3 separate regions of the Homo sapiens genome follow, and all the other regions are linked to region 2. Evidence: fine-mapped expression QTL. A gene starts in region 2. Each other region holds a variant in brackets. All regions are shown on one strand. Distances are from middle to middle. Region 1 overlaps SACM1L (SAC1 like phosphatidylinositide phosphatase). Region 2 holds the start of SACM1L (SAC1 like phosphatidylinositide phosphatase). Region 3 overlaps SLC6A20 (solute carrier family 6 member 20).

Evidence for each region. PIP is the estimated chance that this variant, and not a neighbour inherited with it, causes the effect.
Region 1: its variant is fine-mapped to the expression of SACM1L in Th1/17 cells (Schmiedel 2018, PIP 0.95).
Region 3: its variant is fine-mapped to the expression of SACM1L in whole blood (TOPMed, PIP above 0.99).

Annotation. Positions count from the first base shown.
Region 1 is chr3:45,730,501-45,738,680 of GRCh38, reverse strand. SACM1L (SAC1 like phosphatidylinositide phosphatase) reads right to left here. Exons shown (of 20, transcript NM_014016.5): 12 at 7,301-7,380; 13 at 6,530-6,628; 14 at 3,308-3,446; 15 at 1,029-1,098; 16 at 837-909; 17 at 10-103. Among named protein-coding and RNA genes, the nearest start is that of SACM1L, 45 kb to the right of the region's middle. The variant T/AAAT (reference allele first, on the strand shown) is at 4,568.
Region 2 is chr3:45,685,843-45,694,022 of GRCh38, reverse strand. It overlaps SACM1L (SAC1 like phosphatidylinositide phosphatase), which reads right to left and starts at 4,627. Exons shown (of 20, transcript NM_014016.5): 1 at 4,526-4,627. The coding sequence starts at 4,557. It overlaps LIMD1 (LIM domain containing 1), which reads right to left. Exons shown (of 8, transcript NM_014240.3): 8 at 7,682-8,180. LIMD1-AS1 (LIMD1 antisense RNA 1) reads left to right here and starts at 5,141. Exons shown (of 3, transcript NR_033947.1): 1 at 5,141-5,647. It overlaps TRR-ACG2-1 (tRNA-Arg (anticodon ACG) 2-1), which reads left to right and starts at 4,952; the gene lies at 4,952-5,024. RefSeq lists a silencer at 4,436-4,615 and enhancers at 4,646-4,935, 5,196-5,245, 5,756-5,825.
Region 3 is chr3:45,755,480-45,763,657 of GRCh38, reverse strand. SLC6A20 (solute carrier family 6 member 20) reads left to right here. Exons shown (of 11, transcript NM_020208.4): 9 at 586-745; 10 at 3,636-3,801; 11 at 4,531-8,178. The coding sequence ends at 4,680. Among named protein-coding and RNA genes, the nearest start is that of SLC6A20, 37 kb to the left of the region's middle. The variant A/G (reference allele first, on the strand shown) is at 3,757.

The DNA.
Region 1 (8,180 bases), 45 kb before region 2:
CAAACTTACTTGTCTAAATCCATCGGAAAAGTTGTTCTTATAATATCGTATCATTGAGTTCCAGCCATCCATTATAAGTCCCAAATGAGTTCTCTTTCCAGTTCTGGTTAAAGAGGTTAAATTTTAAGTTACAGGTTTGTACACTGAATTCTCACACTGTTTTATGGCCAATAAGCATAAGGTATAGAAATAAGTGAGTGACAGATTTTAAAAACTATCCCTGAAAATACAGATACTTCACAAAAGAAATCACTTGTAGGTCCAAGAAATACCTATTTTCTTTCTAAAATATTACCAAAGGAGGCACAAAGAAACACACTAATTCCAGTTGCAAAGACAAGAAATATGAAGAGAAATACATAGCCCAGGTTAAGTGGTAGGACACAGCAAAGCAAACAGACTAGAAATCTTATTCTGCTCCCAGGGAACCCACATAGCAGAAAAAGAGCCACTGCATGCATAATACATTCAAAATGTTCTCATTAATGTCCTCATTACTCAGTGCAGTCTTTGAAAGCAGCATCAGCATCACCTGGGTGCTTTTTAGAGCACATCTCAAGACTGGTGCTTCAGGTACACGGTAAGGTCTGAGGAGCACTGTGGAGCGGTGGCTCTCAACCCTCCCCAAGCATCAGAATCTCCCAGGGTGGCTAAGAACACACCAGTACCCGGGCCTCACTTCCCAGAAATCCTGACTCCACAGGTCTCAAGTGAGGCCCAGATGCTGGAGTCTTGCTGTTGTTGCTGCTGCTGTCTGAAAGCTGCCCAGGTGATTTTTAAAAGCACCAGGACTGTGAACTACTGATGTGGAATGCTATTTTAAAAGCATGGCTTGCCTGGTAAAGTCAGTCTTCAAGGCACCAGTTCCCGCATATTGCTTGGCACAAGCATTTGCGTTGTCAGCCCAGGCTGTAGAAAAAAGTAAAAACAGCTGATAATTATTAAGATGACAAACAAAGTTCTAAATCCAGAATATTAATTTATTTCAAAATCTGACCAACTTTGTCTATATTAAAGAAATGACCTACCATTTTTGTAAATCTTCTCAAATTCATCTTGTTCTTCAAGCTTTTGTCCCACATGCAAAACTCCTAGTCTCTGGAATAAAAAACCACACCCAGATTTATGTGTAATAGATTTTAGCAGACATGGTTTAGGAAGAAAAAGCAGTCCCCAAATTTTATCTCATGGTGCCTGGTTGCTGGATGCAGGCCAGAAATGTCTGTTGTCTATAGGGGGCCCCAGCTCACAGCAGCCCTCTCCTGCCCAGGGCAGACTGCAAAGCCTCTCCTGAGGGCACCTTTGCCTTGCAGCCCCCGCACTCCCTTGAGGGATAGCAGCAGGACTATACTCAGGGAGAGGGTCAGAAGAGAGAGTGAAAGCTGCTATAGGATTCCAGCCGCTACTTCCTCCCTCCCTCTTACCCCCAGTCTTCTACTGCCTCTACCCCTTGAGACCCCCTCACATGCATCATCCCTCAACTTCTTCACCCCTGAGTCACCCCAGCCTTACCCTCTGTCCCAGGGACCTTTAAGAATCTGATGAGTGCCACCTAATCTACCTCCCCAAAAGTGCACACACACAGACATAGAATATCCCAGGGTTGCTGGGCCCCCTGAATCCCCTCTATAGACTCCCCTTTGGAGACCACCAACCACAGATGACAAGTCCCTGCCTTGTCTCAGACCATCACTTCTGAGAACCACCATCTTCATTGCTTACCTCAGATGACACCTCATCTCCACCTCAGAAGGAGTCATTCCCACCCTCAGACACAGCACAGGAGCCACCTTGGTGACCTTTAGCTGGGTAAGAACTCTGCCTTCACTGGCAGACTTGGAGAGGCACAAGTAGACAGCCCCTACACTAGTAGGCAAAGCTGCTGGAGAGGCTCCTGCCCCCACTCTCTGCAGGTTGGTTAGGTTTCATAATACTATATATAGCATGTAAAATTGTAAAATATGGATTGCAGAGCCTAGTCAAGTAAGTTTTGGTTAATCAGCCATGGAACCAAACCATTCCTAATATTGTTTCTATTAAAAACTACACTTAGAAGACCTTCCAACAGACGAGGACATAGCACAATACAAACTACAGACTACTCCAACAGGGACAGCACTCCTCTGGCAGGTGTGACTTTAAGATTCAAGAACAATTCATTCTGAAGGGGGTATTTTACCTCCATAATTTCTTTCTCGGTATCATACAATTGTCAGAAATAAAGCTGAATGCTTACTAATTACCTGAACAGGAAACCATGTGGTATGCATTTTGTCTGCCCCTCACAACAAATGCCAATGTGATTTAAAAATTGGGGCTCTACATCTTTTTCATTCCAAATATACACAGAAGAAAAAAACCATTTTTCTCAACAGCATAGTCTAGTGGTAAAGCAAAGCTGTGTCAGAAACTTTTTACTTTGGAGTCAATATTCCTTGCTAGTAATAAGAGAGAGATAAATAGAAACAATCTTGAGGTGCTACTTTTGTATTAACGAAATAGAAAAAAAAGAGGCTAGACACAGTGGCTCAAGCCTGTAATCCCAGCACTTTGGGAGCTGAGGCAGGTAGACTGCTTGAGCCCAGGGGTTTGAGACCAACCTGGGCAACATGGTGAAATCCTGTCTCTACAAAAAAAAATACAAAAATTAGCCAGGTGTGGTGGCACATGCCTGTAGCCCCAGCTTTGTGGGAGGCTGAGTTAGTAGGATGGCTTGAGCCCAGGAGGCAGAGGTTGCAGCAAGCCGAGACTGCACCACTGCACTCCAGCCTGGGCAACAGAGCCAGACACTTTCTCAAGGAAAAACAAAAAAAAAATTAAAATATCAAATGCTGGGAAGAGTTCAATGAAATGGATTTACTGATTCATTATTGGTGTCAGTGTAAACTGGTATGACGCTCTTGGAAAATAATATATTTATTCTCTTTAACCCAGTAATTCCACTTCTAGGAATTAACATGAAGGAAATAATTCAAGTTAATAATAACATATACAGATATATTCTCTACGGTGTTATTTATAAACCAAAAATGTAGCAATCTGAATGGCTTAGTAAATTACGGCACAACAATACAACCACCAGAAACTGTGATTACATAAATGCTAAGGGAAAATGGCAAAAGTGAAAACTGTGCATACACAGACTGACCCTAGTTATGGAAAATGTGACATCCATGGGCAAGACACAAAAATAAAAAGAGCTGGGTTAGGGTGTGGGCAATGTGAATATTTTTTGTTACTGGGTTTTAAAGATGTTTAATTTTTTGCTGTGTTGTTTTTCAATTAAAAAAAAAAAAAGCATTCGCACCTGAAGTTGGGCCTGAAGTGAACGACGAGCTAACAAACTCTGGATCACATTGGTTCTATCTAGACAATCCATGCAATTGCTTCGGAACACGCCTTCCTGGTTTGCCACCACCTGGCCAGCAGAGTCCACTAGAAAATAACTAAAACATATTTGTATAAACACTCTCATACCAAAGTAGGTCAGATTTACTAAGGACTTAACTCTTATAACATGGGTCTCATTTCAGTGACATTATTAAAAACTGTAAATTAAAAGGTCAGACAGGAATGTGTGGTCAGGCATATGTGATTATCCTAGACCAAAAAGAAGTCTAAATGGCTGAGGCAAGACAGCCCTCCATCCAAAAAATGGCTGAAGATTAGAGATCATCTCACCCCAAAGATGTGAAAAAGTAAAGTTAAGAGTATTAAAAAGGTTGCTGTGCAAATCAATCATGTTTCCCAAAGCCAGATGAGGGTTTCCTCTAACATAATTATTCCAACTATATCCCTAGATGTCAGGGCTTTATGATTCATATACTATCTTTAGAATCCTCTGGGTTGCTTGTGAAAAAAGATTCCTGGCCTTGAGATCAACTGAATCAGAATCTCTGAGGCAAGGATTGAATATTTTGCATTAAAAATACTTTTAGCTGGGCGTGGTGGTGCGTGCCTGTAATCCCAGCTACTTGGGAGGCTGAGGTGGAAGGATTACTTGAGCTCAGAAGTTCGAGACCAGCCTGGACAACATAACGAGTCCCTGCCTCTAAAAGAACAAAAACGTAGCCAGGCATGGTGGTGCCTACCTGTAGTCAGAAGGCTAAAGTGGGAGGATCACTTGAGCTCAAGGGTTAAAGGTTGCAGTGAACTATGATCACACCACTGCACTCCAGCCTGGGTGACAGAGCGATATCCTGTATCTAAATTAAAAAAAATTTTTTTTAAATACTTAAAAATATTTTTTTTCTTTTTCTTTTTTTTTTGAGATGGAATCTCCCTCCGTCACCCAGACTGAAGCACAGTGGCATGATCTCAGCTCACTCCAACCTCTGCCTCCCAGGTTCAAGTGATTCTCCTGCCTCGGCCTCCTGAGTAGCTGTGATTACAGGCACCCACCACCATGCCTGGCTAATTTTTGTATTTTTAGTACAGATAGGGTTTTGACATGTTGGCCAAGCTGGTCTTGAACTCCTGACCTCAGGTGATCCGTCTGCCTTGGCTTCCCAAAGTGCTGGGATTACAGGCGTGAGCCACAGCCCCCAGCCAAAAAAAAAAAAAAAAA[T/AAAT]TCTTAAATGGGTAATACATGCAAATAGTACAAGATTTATAAAGAACAATTGGGTATTATTTGAAAAATCAGTTTCCCTTCCTCCCCTTAAACATCCAGATGTCTGCACTGCAACCAACCACAGTTACCAGTTCCCATGTTTTCTTTAACAAGCTCCTTGATAATTCTATGAATTCAAAAATCTGACAACACACAGTGTGGTGGTTAAGAATATGGATGCAGGAAGCAAACTATCTGTTTGCTAGCCTTAGCATCATACGCAACTTACTAACTCTAGAACTTTAAATAGTAAGCTTTTTCATCCACAAAATGGAGGTAACAGCAGCACCACCATTAGGCTTCTCTAAGGTTTGAATGAGATAACACATAATGCACATAAAGTACTTAGCACAGTGTATGGAACACAGCAAACAACGAATACTGGATAATGTTAACTATTGAAACTATTCTCCAAAATCCAAAAGGAGGAAGAAAATGCAACAGATTCATCAAGGGCTAAATACAAATCATGACCTCAGGAACAAAAGCGTGGAAGAATGTGTTAGGATGAAAAATCTACATATGGATCATGCAGAATTGGTAAGGTTCGTTTAGAGTTGGTGTACATATATATGTGTGTGCAAGGGTGTGTGTGTCCGTACCCCATGAATACTTATAAAATCCTAGATATGTTATAAACATTATCGCTTAAACTATACAGTAAGTTATCATCTTCACTTTACAAATGAAGAAACCGAAGTCTGAAGATAACTAAGTGGCCCTGGGTCATATTACTACTAAGAGAAAAACTTAAATTCAAACCAAGGTGTGTTGGATCCCAAAGCCCAGATTCTTCCCACTACCCCCAAAACCCTTAGAAAAAAGTCTCGAGAGATCATCTGAAAGTCACCAGTGAAAGCTCTGCTCTCCCTGTGGACCACAGTGAACAGCAACGAACACAAACTCTGGAGTCAACTCTCCTTCTTTCTTACACTCTTGTACGGCAGCAGTTAATGGGTGAACCCAAGGAACTACCTCCTCCAACAACATGCCAGGGCCAGCCAATGTTTTCTCTAATTGCCCAACAACAGGAGGTCAATTTCCCTTCTGTGTTCATGGCAAAACGTCACAGAAAAAAAGCAGATTTAAATAACTGTAGTTGATTACCTAATGTATATAAAAAGATATTTTTGAAAACTGAGCAAATGTCTATCCAAGAGGTTTTACTATATTATTGTGTAACAAATTAAAAAGTGCATTTGGATTGCCAGGTTTAGAACCATCACACACAGGCAGAAGAAAATGGTAGTACGATTTACAGATTCCTTCTTCTGGCTTTAAAATCGGTAAAGACTGGCACGCATAGAGTATGGTAAACCTGAACCAATATGATAATATAGTACTGCAAAGACATTCAGACCCTTTGATCCATTAATCCTACTCTGAAGAATTTTTTTAAAGAAATAAATTTAACAGATGTAAAATATATATAATGATTCATGGCACCACAATCTTTCATGATAGAAAGAGGAAAGGAAATAAACCAGGTGCTCAGGGTGAAGAAAAGCACTTTCTTAGAACTATGTTATGATAAAACAGAATATAGAAAAGCCATTAAACACTATCATTACAGACGCTGTACAGGTTAACAACAAAATACTTGTGATAGAATGTCTAGTGGAAACGACAATACAAAATAGTAGTAAACCAAGTTCAATTATACAAAAATTTGTAAATGTATGGTAGATAATTTATAAAAATATGAAGATATCTGGCCTTGGGTCATTTTTAAGAATTCAAAAATATTTTGAAGTCACCAAGTCTCATCTTTCCAGTAAAGAAATTAAAAATAATAAAATAGTACAGACAAGCAATGACAATCCAGTGAACTGTACTTGTAAGTCTGCTGGATGACGCATAATAAAATATGACTGATATATATACCTCTTCCCTCTACCTCCTTAAGGAAATAATATAGCTTACCTTAATTCATCTTGCATTTCTGCTACCTGATCCAATAAAATACTTAGTCGATCCCATCTCATATTTTTACATTCCTTATGGAAGTCAAAGGCAATGTATCTACCAAAAGAAAAGATATTCAGAAACCGACCAGAGATCATTCATTTTCCTTCTATTAATAATACCTTCATAAGCTGATTTTCCTCTTTATATCAGTGCATACATATTTCTTGGGAACACTAGAACCTCCTTCACTCTGGGTTTATCACTATACATATACTACATGCACACACACACCCCTTCTCATGCTCATACCTAGCAGAGGAAAAAATATATATATGATATGTGCAGATATAAACATGAAAATATATGCATATATATCTATCCTCACAGGTTCTTCTGGGGCCCTCAGGAGGAGTAGAGGAGAAACACAACAAATGGTAGTGAAGTAAGCTCAAGTACAGCAATCAGGTATGCACTGCAAAGAGGCCTAGTCCAAATTCCTTAAGGCAATTCTAGTGGCAAAGTATTATCTATGGAAACTCTCTGGAGCACAAAGCCTCAATGAGGGAATTTTAATCAGAGACTAAACTCAAAACTTGACTGAAAAGAAGTTATTCTGCAACATAAATTATGCTAGAGAAATTTCAAGCCAACAAAATATCATGCTTTGATCTACTATTGAAAAAAATGCAAGCTGAAACATATGTCTAGTGAGCTCTATGTAATCATGCATATATGTAAGTGCACATCTGATCTGAAAAGACCTGCAACAGATTTCTAGTGAGGTACCTCATCATTCCACTTCCCAAGGAAGACACCATTGTTGCAAATGTCTGCTCAAGTGGCTTCTCCGAGCCCTTCTGGTTAATCTGTAAAAAATTTCAAACACCATAGTTTCCAGTTTATTTCAAAGGAGAGAATGGTATCAGAAAAAGGACAAACTAGGAAGCTCTAAGCTCTCATCATTCTCCCACAGAAACATCAAAAAAACCCAGAAGCTGTCTGAGCCAACTTTGTAGGAGCTCTGAAAAACGATTAAAGGTTTTATAGTAACCCACCCAAGCACCCAATAAAGTAAAAGTCACTTTCAAAATGGTGGGAAAGTTTTGTGGCATTTAACTTGTCCTTGACCCAGCCCCTCCTCAGAGTGGTGACAACCTTAGTCTTACAAGGGAATAACCGGGTTCTCAGTTCCCCTCATCAAACTAGAGGAGGCAGACCAGACCTTATTTGCATATAATTGTGTACATCTGTTGTAACATGAAGGACTAACTCATCTCTGTCCCACGTATCTCTGAACACGGGCAGTAAAAATGGTGACCACTGTTTGTAAAAGCTACAAGAGGAACATAAACCAATGGATGCCTGAGGCAAAAAATTCTGGATGGAGACATACAATAGACCATCTAAAGGCTGGAGAAGAAGCTTGGTGATATTCTTAGGAAATTAGGACTTTCAAAAGCAGCCATGTATATGAAGGAGTTTTGAAGGCCACCCACATAACCAGGCAAGATGCATGCTGAAAAGAGTCCTGAGAAGACCTTAAACCTTTACCACAGACTGATCCCTAGGCTCACAGCAAGCCTGGCTACTCAGCAAAGGACTGCCCCAGCATACAGCAAGTCTGCAAAGAATGGGGGACAGGGTTGTTCTCTCATTTTTGCTTTCT
Region 2 (8,180 bases):
CTACGCCGAACTGCCAAGGTATTTTAGCTTATATACAGGGATAGATAAGCTTCTTAAAAATTACATTTCCAGTCTAATTATTTTGCAATTTCAAATTTATCACTGTCTGACATTATCCATGCCTATACAAATGGCTTAAAAAGAAAAATGGAGCCTAACAGGATATTTAGAACTGCCTGGAAGTTTAAAAAGTATGAATTTTAAATTCTGAGCAAATCAATATTCTGTTTTCCACATTAAACATATGGAAATTAATATGGACATGTCAACTATATTTGGTTGTAAGTGACTCATTTCAATACCTGGCATGTCTGAGGACTAATGCGAGAGCAATCTGGTAAGAGAAAAAAAGGTCATATGGATAATGCAATGAAATGGAAAGATCACTGGACTCTGGACCAGCCGTATTCCAAGGCTAGCTCTACCATGGCTTGGCTGTATGATCTGACTTTGTGGCCAAGGGCAATTATGAGACTGTTTTCAACAATGACAGGATACCTATCAACCTATGACCTCACAGAGACACTGGGAAGACAATATACATGAAATGACTTTTAAGCTGTGTTTCTTCAAAACGATACATTCCAAATTACCCTAGACTGTGTTCTTTTTGCAGTGCTAGTACGTGGTCTATACTGGAAAGTTCCTTTCATTTACTCAGTTGATTCACTGAGGAGCTGCTCTGCACAAGGCTCTATGTTAGGTACTGAGGAGGACTAGAGAAGAAAATGTTAAGGTGTAAACTGGTTGGAGAAACAAAGTACAGCCATGTGCCATGTAACAATGCTTTGGTCAACGACAGACTACACATATGATGGTGGTCCTATAAGCTTATAATACCGTATATTTACTGTACCTTTTCTTGTTTATGTATGTATACATACACAAATCTTTACCATTGTGTTGCAACTGCCTACAGTATTCAGTACAGTAACCTGCTGTACAGGTTTGTAGCCTAGGAACAACTGGCTATTCCATATAGCCTAGGTGTGTAGTAGGCTGTACCATCTAGGTTTGTGTAATTATACTCTGATGTTTGTACAAAGAAGTTGCCTAACATATTTCTAACATATTTCTCAGAATGTATCTCTGTCAGTAAGAGTCACATAACGGTGTACATAATGATTTCATTTCTAAGTGACAAAATGAGTGGTTCAAACAGTACTATGGATTGACCATTCTAGCTTTCCATCCTCTTGTCCATGAGAAAGTAAATGCACTGTAAACTGATCCTAAGAGACAGAATACATAAATCATGTAAACATTTGGTGTCTAACCCTGTTACAATAATTTTTCATTTTTGGCTTTAAAAACTGTTACCAGAACTCAGTGAAGGAAAAGACATGGAAAGAAAACATTTCTCAAAGAAGGTACCTATGAGGTACACTAAGTACTTCATCTAAACTCTCTTTGGGCCAGGCATGGTGGCTCATGCCAGTAATTCCAGCACTTTGGGAGGCCAGGGTGCATGGATCACTTAAGACGAGGAGTTCAAGTTTCAGCAACATGGCGAAACTGAAAAACAGAAAAAATCAGCCAGACATGGTGATGTGCACCTGTAGTCCCAGATGCTTTGGGGGCTGAGGTGAGAGGATCACTTGAGCCTGGGAGGCTGAGGCTGCAGTGAGCTGAGCTCACACCACTGCACTCCAGCCTGGGTGACAAGTGAGACCCTGTCTCACAAAAATAATAAAAAAAAAAAAAAACTCTCTTTCAAACCTTACAATAATCCTGTGAAGTATCAACATTCCCATTTTACAGACTGAAACACCAATTCAGAAGGATTAAGTACTATGCCCAGGACACAAAACAAGTAGTCAAGTTAAGATATGAATCCATATCCATTCTGACTAACAAAACCTGAGATCTCTTGGCTCTACCATGGATGTGACCAGTATGTAAAGAGAACAGAGAGGAAGAAGGCATTCTGGGTAGAAGGATCAAAATAACACCCAAGTTTGAAGCTAGAAGGGGATGAGCCAAGTTTTGCAGAAGTGGGGAAAAGGCTCTGGGCAGTTACGGGAAATAAATTAGGCGACAGATTATAAAAAGGCTAGAATATACAGATGGCTAAGAAATGCAAGTTTGATCCTATAGGTCAGTAAGATGGAACTGGAAATTGTAAGCAGGAAAGTAGAGGATAAAACCAGAGCATTAGAAAGGTGAAATTCAACAAGGCAGAGATGGGCTGGAGAAAAAGCATGGCATAATGCAGACAGAATTATTATTTAAAATCCGAAGTAGGACAGGTGTGGTGGTGTGCATCTGTAGTCCTAGCTCCTCGAGAGGCTGAGGTGGGAGGCTCGCTTGAGACTAGGAGTTAGAGGCTGCAGTGAGCTATGATCAAACCACTGTACTCCAGCCTGGGCAACAGAATGAGACCCCATCTCTTTAAAGACAAAACGAAACAAAAGAAAAAAAAAACAAGCATTTCAACATTTAAATAAATCCTTTTAGCAATCCTTTTGTAATAAAATAATCGAACTATCTCTTTTGCATGGATATTTCTTAAAACACATCTCCAGACACATTTTAAAAAATGGCTACTATCTCCTACCAATTCTTACACAGAAACCAATTTCACTTCTAAATGCATCCAAAAAAGAATACTCCTTAGGGCAGGAGCCACATTTGAAAACCTTCAACAGCAGCCTCAGAGCAGGAAGGGCCAAAAGGAAGGAATAAAAATGGAAACTCTAACTCATAAACCCCTTGGTAAAGAAAAAGGTGCAAAAAAGTTGTACCTTCACATTTACAGAAACACTCTAAACTTTTTTTTCAGGGGGAAAAAAAGCTAGGACTGACAAATGAGAGAATGACTTTCACATAACCCCAGTTTGACTTTATCACCCAAATAATTTAAGAGTTTCCACTTCTCACAAAAATCAATACAAAAACATCATTCTTACTACTTCAGGGACAAATTTCCTTTCTCTTTTATGTATGCGAGGATTTGGGTTTGTTTTAAGGTCTGAACTGGTTAAATTTAGTGTTCTGGCAGCTGAAAAACAATCATCATAATTCTCAAGTTCTCCATCCTATTCAATCTTTGCCACGCTAAGCTGCATGAAGCCATGGCTCCATATGGCTTAAACACATTTGAGACCTGGTGTAGGATCACATTAAACCCTTCAGTGCCTATCAGATACACAATAACCTAATTAGCTAGCAGAGCACATGTGACAGTGGCCTGGCCAGAAACGCAGTGGAAGACACTTCCTTCAACTCTTTCACCAAAGACGAGGTGAGCACTTTGCAAAGGGGAACTGGGAGAAAATAGGGAAAGGTGGAGAGGAAAATGTGGAGGGAAGTGTGCAGCTAGGGTTTTCAAAGAACATTACAGTAAACAGAAATGGCACCCACAGGGGGTGCACTGTAGAAAAAGCAATCATCTTTTTTGCAACACATACAATGTGGAATAGATGACCTCTCTGAATTTTGCACCTCTAACTTTCCACTGAACCTTTCAGAAAGTTACTAGTGAGGTTGAGGTCTGAGGAGCTTAAGTGCCCAAACCACATTTTGGTGTCATTTCCCTGCAAAAGAAATGCGGTATCTATGCCTAACTGCCAAGGTATTTTAGCTCATATACAGGGATAGATAAGCTTCTAAAAAATTACATTTGTTTCTCCTACCAGATATTCCCAGGCTGTGGCCACCAGATTTTCAAACAGCCTAGGGGTAAAGCATTAAACACGAAGTGAGTACAACAAAATTATTCACAGACAAGAAAAGTGTGGATGCTAATGGGTAACACTAAGGGAAATAAACACATGTTGTTTTTAATCCAAGACAAACCAAAACCCTTAAAAACACCTATTTTATAACTCTTAACAACCACAGCCTCTGTATCAAAGACTCAAGAACTTGGATTTACCGAAAAGTCAATTTGCAGTACCAAAATTACCGAGATTAGCCTCTGGCTGTCGACACTGACTTAAGAACCTGCTTTAGGCTGGAGCTGTTTAAAATTTAAACCAAAGTAAACTCCTTCAGGACCTTAAGACTACTGACTGTACTTTAAATTTTTTCTGCACACTGAAGAGGGGGCAGGCAGGCTTCGGTACCCAGATAGGCTGTAAGCAAAACAAAGATTTGTTGATTTGTGCGTAGACTCTAAATTGCTGCTGTAGGTCCGTTAAGTAAGAGAAAACTCTTTTTCTCTGTTAAGTCATACAGATAAATTTAGTCGGTAGCTCTGCATAGAAAGTGGGGACAAGCGTGCCCTGAAGGGCCGCATCATAACGCCGACCCCGGCTCGGTGGGGGCCAGTCGGCAGCTTCTCTCTTCAGCCGTGGGCGCTGGGGCCGAGCACGGTGGAGAAAGGCCGGCGAGCCGCTGGTTCCCGGCCTATGGCTACTCGGGCGAGGCCTAGGAGAGGCCGCGCCGGCTGAGGAAAACCGGTAAATGCGAGGAGCTCCCACACCCTATCTGCAATCCGGGACTCAGAAGCCCTCCCCGAGGCCAGGGCCCGCACCTGCCGCCCCGCCCGCCGCGCCTCAGGCCTCTGGCCCGTGGGACTCACAGCTTCAGCTGCTCGTAGGCCGCCGTCGCCATCCTGCACAACCACCTCCTTCCTTCTCTCTCCGCCCGCCCCGCCCCGCGCCGCCACCTCGGCTACAACTCTACCGGTCACCCTGGCACAGCGGCCGCAGCTCCCAGCCTCTTCCCACCCCTTTCCCCGCCCCGCAGGAGAGCCGGCCTGAACGGGAGGCGGTGGAGGACAAATTAGTGCGCAAGCAAGAGCACGCGAGAGATGCCGCCGACGCGGCGGGTTGGAGTGCGACGAAGAGCGCCGTGACGAAGCCGCTGCGGATTGGTGGGGCGCGTTTTGGGGAAAGGCAGAGCAGCGGGAGCGCGGCGCAAGGGCAAAATGGATCGTTGGTACCCGGAAGCCCGTTCAAACTGTATAAGGGTGATCAGCTATCACGGAGAAGGCTTTAGCAAGTCGGGGCCAGTGGCGCAATGGATAACGCGTCTGACTACGGATCAGAAGATTCTAGGTTCGACTCCTGGCTGGCTCGCGATGTCTGTTTTGCCACACTTGACCCATGTACTACTGGGTCTTGTAAAGATGTATATTCACAATGTGAAAGTATTACAAGACCTTGGAAAGGTGTATGGTTAGAATGTGAAAGTTAAATATCTGAAATTTTGATGCCGCTTTGCTCACAATGTCATCCTTTATCCTTTAAACCTGGAGTTGTCTGAGGTGGTTTGCAAACTGCAAAGCGCCCTGTTCCCAATGATGCACCTGAGAAGTCTGTAAATGGGGTAAATTTAGGCAAACACACCTGGAAAAGTGGCATTTTGGAGTGGGGAATGCTGTGGCCGGAGGTTAGCAACCGGATGATGCAAAAGCGTATTTAAGGCAGCAGTTCTGGCCTTTCCCCGCCACGGAGCAGAAGCCCCCATAGTGATGTGAGAAGCGGCGCTGTCCCAGTTTACTAGGATGGGATGGGCTTTGGATCTAACCAGCAGCGAAGAAAACCTGCGGTGCGGCTGCGCTCGGTAGTAGGGGTCCACAAAGCGTCAGAATCTGCAGCAGCCCCGGCCTTTGCGAGCTCCAGCTCCGAAGTCAACCCGGCCCCCAAATTCCACTGGGAAACCTTAAGACACCGGTGTTTTTACCGTAAGAAGACCTCAGGTAATCTAGTATATTACCCCTCATTGTATGGATGCGCGACTTGGACACCCGAGAAGGCGCGAAACGTCTGCGGCCTAAAGGGACTCGAACCGGGGGATTATATGAGTCATCGGACACTGTCCGTTAACCAATCACTCAATCGATCAATTAATTTCCGCAACATAACGTTTTCCCCTGATAAAATTATAGATTTTTAAAATATATAAAATTATTGGGAATATTAACGCGATTCCCACCCTAAATCATTACTATTATTTTTTTTTTCCTTAAAGCCTTTTTTTCTTCTATATTTTTTAACATGGGCATACTTGCACATGTGTTTTTCCAAATTGGGGTTGTACGGAAATGGGTTCCTCATTTTGTCTCCTTACCTTTTTGTCTGAGATTTAAGGTCATTAAATATTCTTTGAAGATATTTCATCAGAGAGCTAGATATTTTAAGCAGAATCCTTATGCTGGGAATTTGGGTGGTTGTCAGTTTAACACCTAGAAAAAATGATGCTGCTTAGGAGTTCGAGACCAGCCTGGGCAACATAGCAAGACCTCATCTCTATTTACTAAATAAATAAATAAATTTTAATTAGCCAGGTGTGGTGGTGTGCACCTATAGTCCTAGCTACTCAGGAGGCTGAGGTGGGAGGATCACCTCAGCCCAGGAGGTTGAGGCTGCAGTGAGCTGTTACCATGCCACTGCACTCCAGCCTGAGCAACAGAATGAGACCCTGTGTTGAATTATTATTATTTTGAGACGGAGTCTCGCTCTGTCACCCAGGCTGGAGTGCAGTGGCGTGATCTCGGCTTACTGCAGTCTCTGCCTCCCGGGTTCAAGCAATTCTCCTGCTTCAGCCTCCCAAGTAACTGGGACTACAGGTGTGTGCCACCACGCCCGACTAATTTTTTGTATTTTTTAGTAGAGACGGGGTTTCACCGTGTTAGCAAGGATGGTCTTGATCTACTGATCTCGTGATCCGCCCACCTCAGCCTCCCAAAGTGCTGGGGTTAGATGTGAGCCACTGTGCCCGGCCGAATTATTTGTCTTACAAATTTCTAGAGGTGGAACGACCAGGTGGACATCTGTAAGGTCCATTTTATGGACATTTTTAAGACTTTTGTTACTTTCTGACTGCCCTCCAAAAAATTAAACCAAAACACACTTCCATCAACAGCACCTGTTTCTCTGTTTTCGTGCATGCTAACCAACACTGGCTATTATAAATTTAACCGTGATTTGCAATTTTCATAATTGGAATATGGAACTTCCTTTTACATGTACTTTATATATTTTCTCTTGATGTATTGAATTTTTTCTTACAAATTTGATTTTTTAATATATTAAGGGTATTAACTCTTAAATACGTTGCAATCTTTTTTCCAGCTTATGATTTACCTTTTCAAAATTTTTTTAACGGCTGGGCACGGTGGCTCATGCCTGTAATCCCAGTGCTTTGGGAGGCCAAGGCAGGTGGATCTCTTGAGGTCAGGAGTTCGAGACCCGCCTGGCCAACATGGTGAAACCCTCTCTCTATTTAAAAATACAAAAATTAGCAAGGCATGGTGGTGTGTGCCTGTAGTCCCAGCCACTCAGGAGGCTGAGGCAGGAGAATTGCTTGAACCTGGGAGGTGGAGGCTGCAGTTGGCTGAGATCACGTCACTGCACTCCAGCCTGGGTGACACAGTGAAACTCTGTCTCAAAAAAAAAAAAAAAAAAAAAATATATATATATATATATATATATATATTTGAACTTGTAGTAATTTTCACTTTATATATTCACACTTACTAATATTTGGTTTCTTCTATTATATGATTTTTTAATGTTTTGTTCTTATGTTGTTTTTACCATTTACTTTAATCCATTTGTCATTTATTTTGTTGCCATTTATCATGATGTAAAGATCAATTAATCTTAAAACCTGACACACTTTATTGAGCAATTACTTCATGCCAGAAACTGCTCTAATTCCCTTACTTGGATGAATTCAATCATTCCTTACAACAATTGTTGTACCTGAGCGAGTTAGAAAAACGCCACACTTTAAGACGAATTAAGAGTCCTTTATTAGCCAGCGACCGAGAGACGGCTAACACTCAAAATTTTCTCAGCCCTGAGGAAAGGGCTAGATTTTCTTTTATACTTTGGTTTAGAAAGGGGAGGGGGGGGTCTAGTTAAAACAATTTTACAGAAATAAAGTAGGCAAAAAGTTAAAAGGATAAATGGTTACAGGAAAGTAAACAGTTCCAGGTGCAGGGGCTTTAAGACTATTACAAGGTGATAGACCCGGGGCTTTGGGCGTTATCAATCAGACGAATTCCTGGGAATTGCGGATATAGCTTGCCACAGTATCTTATCAGTTAATTGCATTCTTGGATGTGCTGGGAGTCAGCTTGCACAAGTTAAGTCCTTGAGGAAGGGGTGCCAGTGAAAGAGCCAAGATGGAGTCTGTCTGGCTGTCTTAGCTAAGGGAGAGTCAATTCAGGTGGAAACAAGGCTAGGTGATTAAAGGAAGAGGGAGAGTCTAAAAACAGGGTTAGT
Region 3 (8,178 bases), 70 kb before region 2:
TCCCATCTGTGAAAGGGGGCTCCGGACACCTGCCTCAGAGGCCTAAGGGTCCAACGCATTGCAAGTGCCTGGCACAAGGGAGGATCTGGGTGGACATTTGTCTCTTCCCTGCCCCACCCTCTTCTGGGTGGAGGCAAGTCCTCTCTAGGAAGTCCTGATGGGGCCACTCCATATTCAAGCCTCCTCCCCTGATTCATTTCTCATGAGCTCCAGGGCTGAGTTGTTGGGATAAACAGCGGGGGTTATAATTGTAGACCCACAGCCTGGGCGGGATCCTGGAATGACAGTGCCCACTACGTCTGCTTGTTCATTGAGCTTTAAGCTCTGCCACCCCTGCAGGGCAGCTCAGTGAGTCAACATCAGTGACCCCTGCCAACACGCTTCGGGACACCATTGTGCCCCCTGCCCCACACACGTGGCACACACCTTCAGAGAGTCCAAACCATGACAGCTCTTTCAACCCATGTGGATGAAGCAATCAGCCAAAATTCCCTGAGGGCCGACGACCCCACTGTCCTGTAGAGAACTGGTAAGCAGTAGTGGGGGGGTCTCGGGCAGGTGAGCAGCTGGTCTTGTGGCCCCCAGGTCTGGTGTGCCTTGTCAACTGTGCCATTGGCATGGTGTTCACGATGGAGGCTGGGAACTACTGGTTTGACATATTCAACGACTACGCGGCCACACTGTCCCTGCTGCTCATCGTGCTGGTGGAGACGATTGCCGTGTGCTACGTGTACGGGCTGAGGAGGTGAGGAGGCCCAGGACCCTCATTTGCATAGGGAAAACACAGCCACAGAGGCCACGCCCCTCAAGGAAAACAGCTGTTTCTTGATGCACATCTTCACCTCTTCTTTAAGCTTCGCATCATGACTCAACGTTTGTTCTTTGCCCGCAGATCTCAGCTTATGCTCTGCCTCTATTCCATGCTCAGTTTGCTTCAGTGAATATCTTTTTCTCTATTCCCTGTACTTTTGCTTTGTATCATAGGCTGTTTTAGGGTTGACCCTGCTGGACCCCCACAGCTTACTGGGGCAGGGAATTGTGCCTCCAGGCACTGGATGCTCTGATCATCGGCCAACATCAGTATTTTCCAAGAACCCTGACCAAAGTCCAGTTGATAACTTAGACCTTAGAAAATTTGGCAGATTCAAAATTTAGTCAGTGAGGTTCTCAATCCCAGTGCACAGCACGGGACTGGAATGTTTTAGTTCTCCCCAGGTGATGGAATGTGCAGCTGGGGCAAGAGCCACTGGTCTAGAGCAACCTTCAAACTCGAGTGTGCCTCAGAGTCCCTTGGGCTGGTCAAACACAGCTGTGAGACTCACCCCCAGGGTTCTGATCAGGCAGGCCAGGGGAGGGCCAAGAATTCACATTTCTAGCAGGTTCCCAGATGAGTCTGGCACCCACACTTTGAGAACCACTGGCCTAGAGAGCTTTGCTACCTCAAGTGTGGTCCCTAGAGCGGGAGCAGCAGCAACAAGGCGCTCGTTGGGACTGCAGAAGCTCGGGCCCACCCCATCCTGCTGAATCAGATCCTGTATCTTCACACTATGTCCAGGGGGCCTGAGGCACATCACAGTTTGGGCAGCGCTGCTCTAGTGGGTGCGGTTTGGGCGAGGAGGCTGTGCCACGTTGTTTTCTGCCCTCTTCCCCAGTCTTTTTGATCCTCTGTGCTGGTTCAGGGTGGGGAGGGAGACATTGACAACACTCTGGGAGGCAGGCATCCCTGAAGCAGCAATCCCTGCTGTGTCCCCGGAAAGGCCAGGGTCCCGTGCCATGCTGAGGGATCTCCCATGATCCATCAGGACATAAGTTAAACAAAGCCAAATTGATGTCTTTCCCGTAGGACTTCTCAGAATCTTAAAGACAGTTGTGGATCCCAAAGAGAGGGTTAGAATTGCAGCATTTCCAGACTTACTTGGTCAAGGAATGCCTTTTCACCCTCCTCTCACCCGACTCCCACCCTTAGCTACTAACATTTTGAGGACACTAGTGTTAAGGGGACCAACTCTCCCTGTTTCCCCAGGATTGAGGGGTTTTCTGGGACGTGGAACTTTCAGTACTAAAATTGGGAAAATCCCTGGTCACCTAGGAAATGCCAGTCTAGAGGGAGAAAGAGATTGGTCACTGAGAGGGTGAGTGTTTCAGGATAAAAAGAGAAGGTTGGGAGAGAGGAACAGAACCTAGGGCCCGCTGGAGGTCACTAGATGGGTGAGGGGCACAAGTCCATCAAAAAGGGGCTGGTGAAGGGAGACAGAGGCAGAAACAAACGTGCCTTGGAGATGTCGTAGGTGGACTGACCATGTAAGTGGCAGGAGGGGAGTGCTTCGGCTTGCTCAGGTGACACCGCCATCTAGTGACCACCCAGCAACAGTGTCCTGGGGCTTTTCTGCAGCCAGCTCTTCCCAACTTTCTCCATCCAGGAAAGGGGGGGGGGTTATGGGGGTGTGAAGGGACAAGAGGACCCCCAACACTTTTTCACCTGTCTGATTTTGAAAGCCCCAGGTTTTCGTGTCACATACATGAGCCTTCATGGCCTGCAGCCTAGAGTCCAACTACGTCAGCAGCAGCAAAGGGCAGGTGGTGGTCGCCACACAGCCTCGCATGGACACCCAGGACATGCAGCAGGTCCCAGGGAGGGAGGGGCTGTGGCTGCAGCTGGTGACGTCACACCCACACCACCCCAGCCCCTCCCGCCAAGGCTGCCTCTTCCGCTGTAGGGAGCAGGTTTAAAGGCTCTGGGCTGGAGGCAGGAGGCCAACCCAGGTTCTGGGCCTGGTCTTTACCAAGCCCTAAGGAAGAAGGCATCGCAGCCCTGGGCCTTGGTTCCTCCTGTGTGAAATGGGGAGTTTCGTTGGGCCAACATCTCCCAAAATGCCAAAGATACTTTTTATACTGTGTACGTGTATTCAAAAACACACGTACTTAGTTTGTCAAGTCGATGAGAAACTGGCTGCTGTTGTGCTGCTGCTAACCGTAGGTTTAAAAGTAAAGAAGAGGGAAAAGAGAGCTACAGGCATGATGGAGGTGGTGATGGTGGCTGTGGGCAACGCCTTTGGGACTCACTGCCCTGGCCACTCTAGACCAGCTCCAGCAGGCCAGGGCTACGGTCCTTCAGTCCGAGGTTGGCTCTTCCTCTGTCCCAGAAAACCTGCTCTGGTTTCAATGGACCAAGTGATTCTGCTCCGTGGTGTTTCTACTGGGAAAGGGAGTCACTGATTGACAGGGGCGGGCTGGGTAGGGGGGTGGGCAAAGCCGCCCAAGAAGTCCCTGTCATTGATGACCAGCCTGACAAATGTCCATCCCCTGCTGCCTGTGCCCACCATTCCTGGAGGCTGCCCTCTGGGCTATGCCAGCAGCCTTCATCTGAAGGCTGGCATTAGGAAGGCGTCTTCTGATGTCCACTCTCTGCGGGTTGCTTGCTCCGTCATCCCTTCTGGGCAGCCTCAGCCCTTCTCCCCTCCCCACCGCAGCACTCGTCTCTCAAGAAGGTGTCACAGAGGAGCCCAGTGGCCAAGCTCAGACATCCTTTACCACCTAGAACAGAATGTTCCTTTGTGAATAGGGACAGGCAAGCTGGACGCCCTGACCTCCGCAGCCTGGTTAATCCAGACTTTCTCTCCCTGTTTTCCAAATAGATTTGAAAGTGACCTTAAGGCCATGACCGGCCGAGCTGTGAGCTGGTACTGGAAGGTGATGTGGGCTGGCGTAAGCCCACTGCTGATTGTCAGCCTCTTTGTCTTCTACCTGAGCGACTAC[A/G]TCCTCACGGGGACCCTGAAGTATCAAGCCTGGGACGCCTCCCAGGTATCTACTGTCTCCGTAGGGCTGGCGCTGGGCCCCCATGGCCACTGAAAAGCATGGGCCATTCATTTTCCGAAACCAGGGGACTATTTCCATGGTGTGGGTAGGTTATTTGTCACGACATGGAAATATCACTGAGGTATTTTAGAAATAGTCCAGCACGGAGGAGCTGGGCTTTGAGCTTTTAGGTATGTGCTTCAGTGGGGCGAGAGGAAGGCACTCCTCCAGAGCTTCCCCATCCACCTGTCCCCCGGAAGCTGAGAAAAACTCCCGCTGCAAAGGCGCCAGCTCCTGCCTCCTGAGCAGCGCTCTCCTCCGCGCCTACCGCAGCAGACAGCACTGACAGAGAACGTTGCTACCTTCACGGGAAAGTCCCATTCCAGGCTAAGAGTAGTCGCCTACAGTTTAGGTTCCCTGAAAGTTGCCTTAGACATAAGGTGCTTGATTATTACCATGGTTATTCATTATGGGTAGCTCCAAACAATAGCTCTACACCCACTGGTTCAAGTAGTTACTATTATTCCTAGTTTATGGAAGAAAAAGAAGGTGAGGGCAGTTAGGCTCCTGGCACATTTGCTAGTGAATTGCAGAGCCCGTGGCCCCAGGAGTGAGGACACCGGCCCCACATGCTCTCTGCCCACGTCACATCACCTCCCCATCACGGATGGGCCCTGAGGCCCAGGGGCAGTGCTCAGCAGGTGCTCTCTGCTGACACTCAGTCTCTCCTTTCAGGGCCAGCTCGTGACCAAAGATTACCCGGCCTATGCACTGGCTGTCATCGGGCTGCTTGTGGCCTCCTCCACCATGTGCATCCCCCTGGCGGCCCTGGGGACTTTTGTTCAGCGTCGCCTCAAGAGGGGAGACGCAGACCCCGTGGCCTGAGATGTGGGCTTCCCAGCCGCTCACGGTTTTACAGATACTATTTACAGGCGGAAACTCCTCGGCTGCTTTTTCAAATGCTTAAGCCAGGAGTGCTCAGCCCATCAACTTCCTGAGTGTCTAAAGAAGATGAGGAAGGTGTGCAGGAAGAAAACTCCCTTGGGAGAACGCACACCCTCCCGTGGTGGCTGTTCCTCCCTGTCACCTGCCTCCTCATCATGGAAGGGGGTGGGCTATGAAAGCCGGTCTCAAAGATAACTGCATCCTTCATTCCAGGAAAGCCCTAGAATTAGGGCACATTGCAAACTGAAATATGACTATAATTCTTATGGGACCAAATTTAAGCAATTTTTGTTTTTGGCTGAAGAGACACCAAAATATTAGAGGACAAATATTTTTAGATCCATTTAAGGAGTTTTGAAGTGCCTAAGATGACCTATTTGTCAGTGGTGCAAAATTAATTCTCTTCTTTTTTGAGTTGTAGTGAATATGCAATTTCTGTGTTCCCCTTCCACCCTTTAAATCTTAGGATGACAAGTTATAAAGAAAGAAGATCTTTGTCTGGGACCCCCAAAGGGATCCTTTCTCTAAGGTCTCTGACGGTGGGTCCAGGACCAGACCTCTCTACAAAAAATTGCCCCAACTACAGTTTGCAACCCCAAACCACATTAGAAGTCTGTGCAGACATCCCTCCGTGGTGTGTGTCTTGGTGCATTGGAAAAGGAGTCAGGAGCCACTGTGAGGTGAGAATGAAAGTGGATCTCAGCTGGGCACGGTGGCTCACGCCTGTAATCCTAGCACCTTGGGGGTCAAGGTGGGTGGATCACTTGAGGTCAGGAGTTTGAGGCCAGCCTGGCCAACATGGCGAAACCCCATTTCTACTAAAAATACAAAAAAATTAGCTGGGAGTGGTGGCATAGGCCTGTAATTCCAGCTACTCTGGCTGCTGAGGCACAAGAATCATTTGAACCTAGGAGGTGGCGGTTGCTGTGAGCCAAGATCATGCCACTCCACTCCAGTCTGGGCGACAGAGCAAGACTCTGACTCAAAAAAAAAAAAAAAAAAAAGTGGCTCTGACTTTCCCATAGGCTTAATATTACATTTGGACATCGTGGCCAACTCTATCAAGACCACAAATACCACTTACAATTAATTTTAAATTATTCATCTGTACATAGTTTTCTAAAATGTATATAATTCAAACAGAGCATCTTGTAACTGAAGACACACCATATCTATGATATCGCATTAGTCCATGTGGGGAAAAGAAAGATCAGATTGTTACTGTGTCTGTGTAGAAAAGGAAGACATAAGAAACTCCATTTTGATCTGTACTAAGAAAAATTGTTTCTGCTTTGAGATGTTGTTAGCCTATAACTTTAGCCCCAACTCTGTGCTCACAGAAACATGCGCTGTAATGAATCAAAGTTTAATGGATTTAGGGCTGTGCAGGATGTGCCTTGTTAACAATATGTTTGCAGGCTGTATGCTTGGTAGAAGTCATCGCCATTCTCCATTCTCGATTAACCAGGGACACAATGCACAGCAGAAAGCTGCAGGGACCTCTGCCCAAGAAAGCCTGGGTATTGTCCAAGGTTTCCCCCCCACTGAGACAGCCTGAGATATGGCCTCATGGGAAGGGAAAGACCTGACTGTCCCCCAGCCCGACACCTGTAAAGGGTCGGTGCTGAGGAGGAATAGTGAAGGAGGGAGGCCTCTTTGCAGTTGAGATAAGAGGAAGGCTTCTGTCTCCTGCTTGTCCCTGGTAATGGAATGTCTCGGTGTAAAAAGCTGACCATTCCCATTCGTTCTATTCTGAGATAGGAGAAAACCGCCCTGTGGCTGGAGGTGAGATATGCTGGCAGCAATACTGCTCTGTTACTCCTTGCTACACTGAGATGTTTGGGTAAAGAGAAACATAAATCTAGCCTACGTGCACATCTGGGCACAGTACCTTTCCTTGAACTTATTCGTGATACAGATTCCTTTGCTCACATGTTTCCCTGCTGACCTTCTTCCCACCTGTTGCCCTGCTACACTCCCCTCGCTAAGACAGTAAAAATAATGATCAATAAATACTGAGGGAACTCAGAGGCCAGCGCCGGTGCGGGTCCTCCACATGCTGAGCGCCGGTCCTGGGCCCACTGTTCTTTCTCTATACTTTGTCTCTGTGTCTTATTTCTTTTCTCAAAAAAATTTTTCTTTTTTTAACTGCAATAAAGTAGGTCGTTACCCCTAAAGTGAGCGAGTCCCTTCCTGCTCTAACGTCCAGTGCTTCCTTGAGATCATGGAATTCTGGAGAGTTTCTGTGGATATATTTGCACAGATATCTTTGAAGACACAAACACTCACCTGGGACGTTGGCCGGAGATGTCTTTTTATTTTTGTGCTGTAAAATTCTCTTACAGCAAAAATAGGCTTTAGAAAGGTCTTCTACTGTCTTCAGCAACCATCTCATCTTCCAGCTTCACCTGATTGTCCAGTTATCATACATTTGACTTTCAAATGTATGAACCAGCATGTACCCCATGGATTTAATCTTATCTACCCCGTGGATTCAATCTTCTTATCAGAAGGTTCTTTTATGTCAAAAAACCTGCTGTCAAGGCTTGAAGAGCCGGCACACTCAATGGCAAACACAGCACCGAGTCTGCTCTGAATCCTGGAGGATCTGGCCCTCCTCTCAATCCCCACTCACAGTCACCGTCTTACAACTCAGGGCCACCTGGGATCAGTCATCAGTCAGGGTGCGTAAGCCTTGAATACCAGGTAGCCTCAGGAGTGAAAAGATAAATGTCCTAGATCATTACCTTATTCAGTGTCCCCACCTTGCAGCGCATTCCAACCACCTGGGAGCATTTAAAACTCCAGATGCCCACACCACACCCTGGGGCCACCCATCAGACCTTCTGGAAGCAAGACCTGGGCCTCCATGGCCCCAAAAACTCCCTAGGTGATCCGATGTGCAGCCAAATCTGAGAGGCCCCATTTAAAAAAGAAAGAACATGGGTGGTACATTGAGGAGTATTTACATTTTATAAAATGACTTAAAAATTTGAAGGCATTTTTGAGCATTTCCAATTATATGGAAGAGTTACTTCTACGGAATAGTTTTTGCTCATGGAACTCAAACAGATGAAGCACCACTGTTACAGAATAATGTGCTCCAGATGAAAATGTCTCGTTTCTGTGAATTTCATGAAGAGCAGAACATTTCTCAAGAATCCTCTTGAGCCAGTAATCAATCCTGTCTCAAAAAATGTTCTTTGCCATTTCCTAGATACTGCACAAAAGTGGCCATGTCGACATTTGTCCACCCACCCTCCAATAAGCTGGAGCGACAAAGGGACATTCCATCCCTGTACCCTTAGTGGTAGCCATGACACGATGGCCAGATCATGGACTCCGGAAAGCTTTCTGTTTTTACTGGAAACATAGCAAACCTTGATTTAGCTCCAAGAAATTGAGTAGGGAAATATTTGTTTTTTAGCAATTGTCATA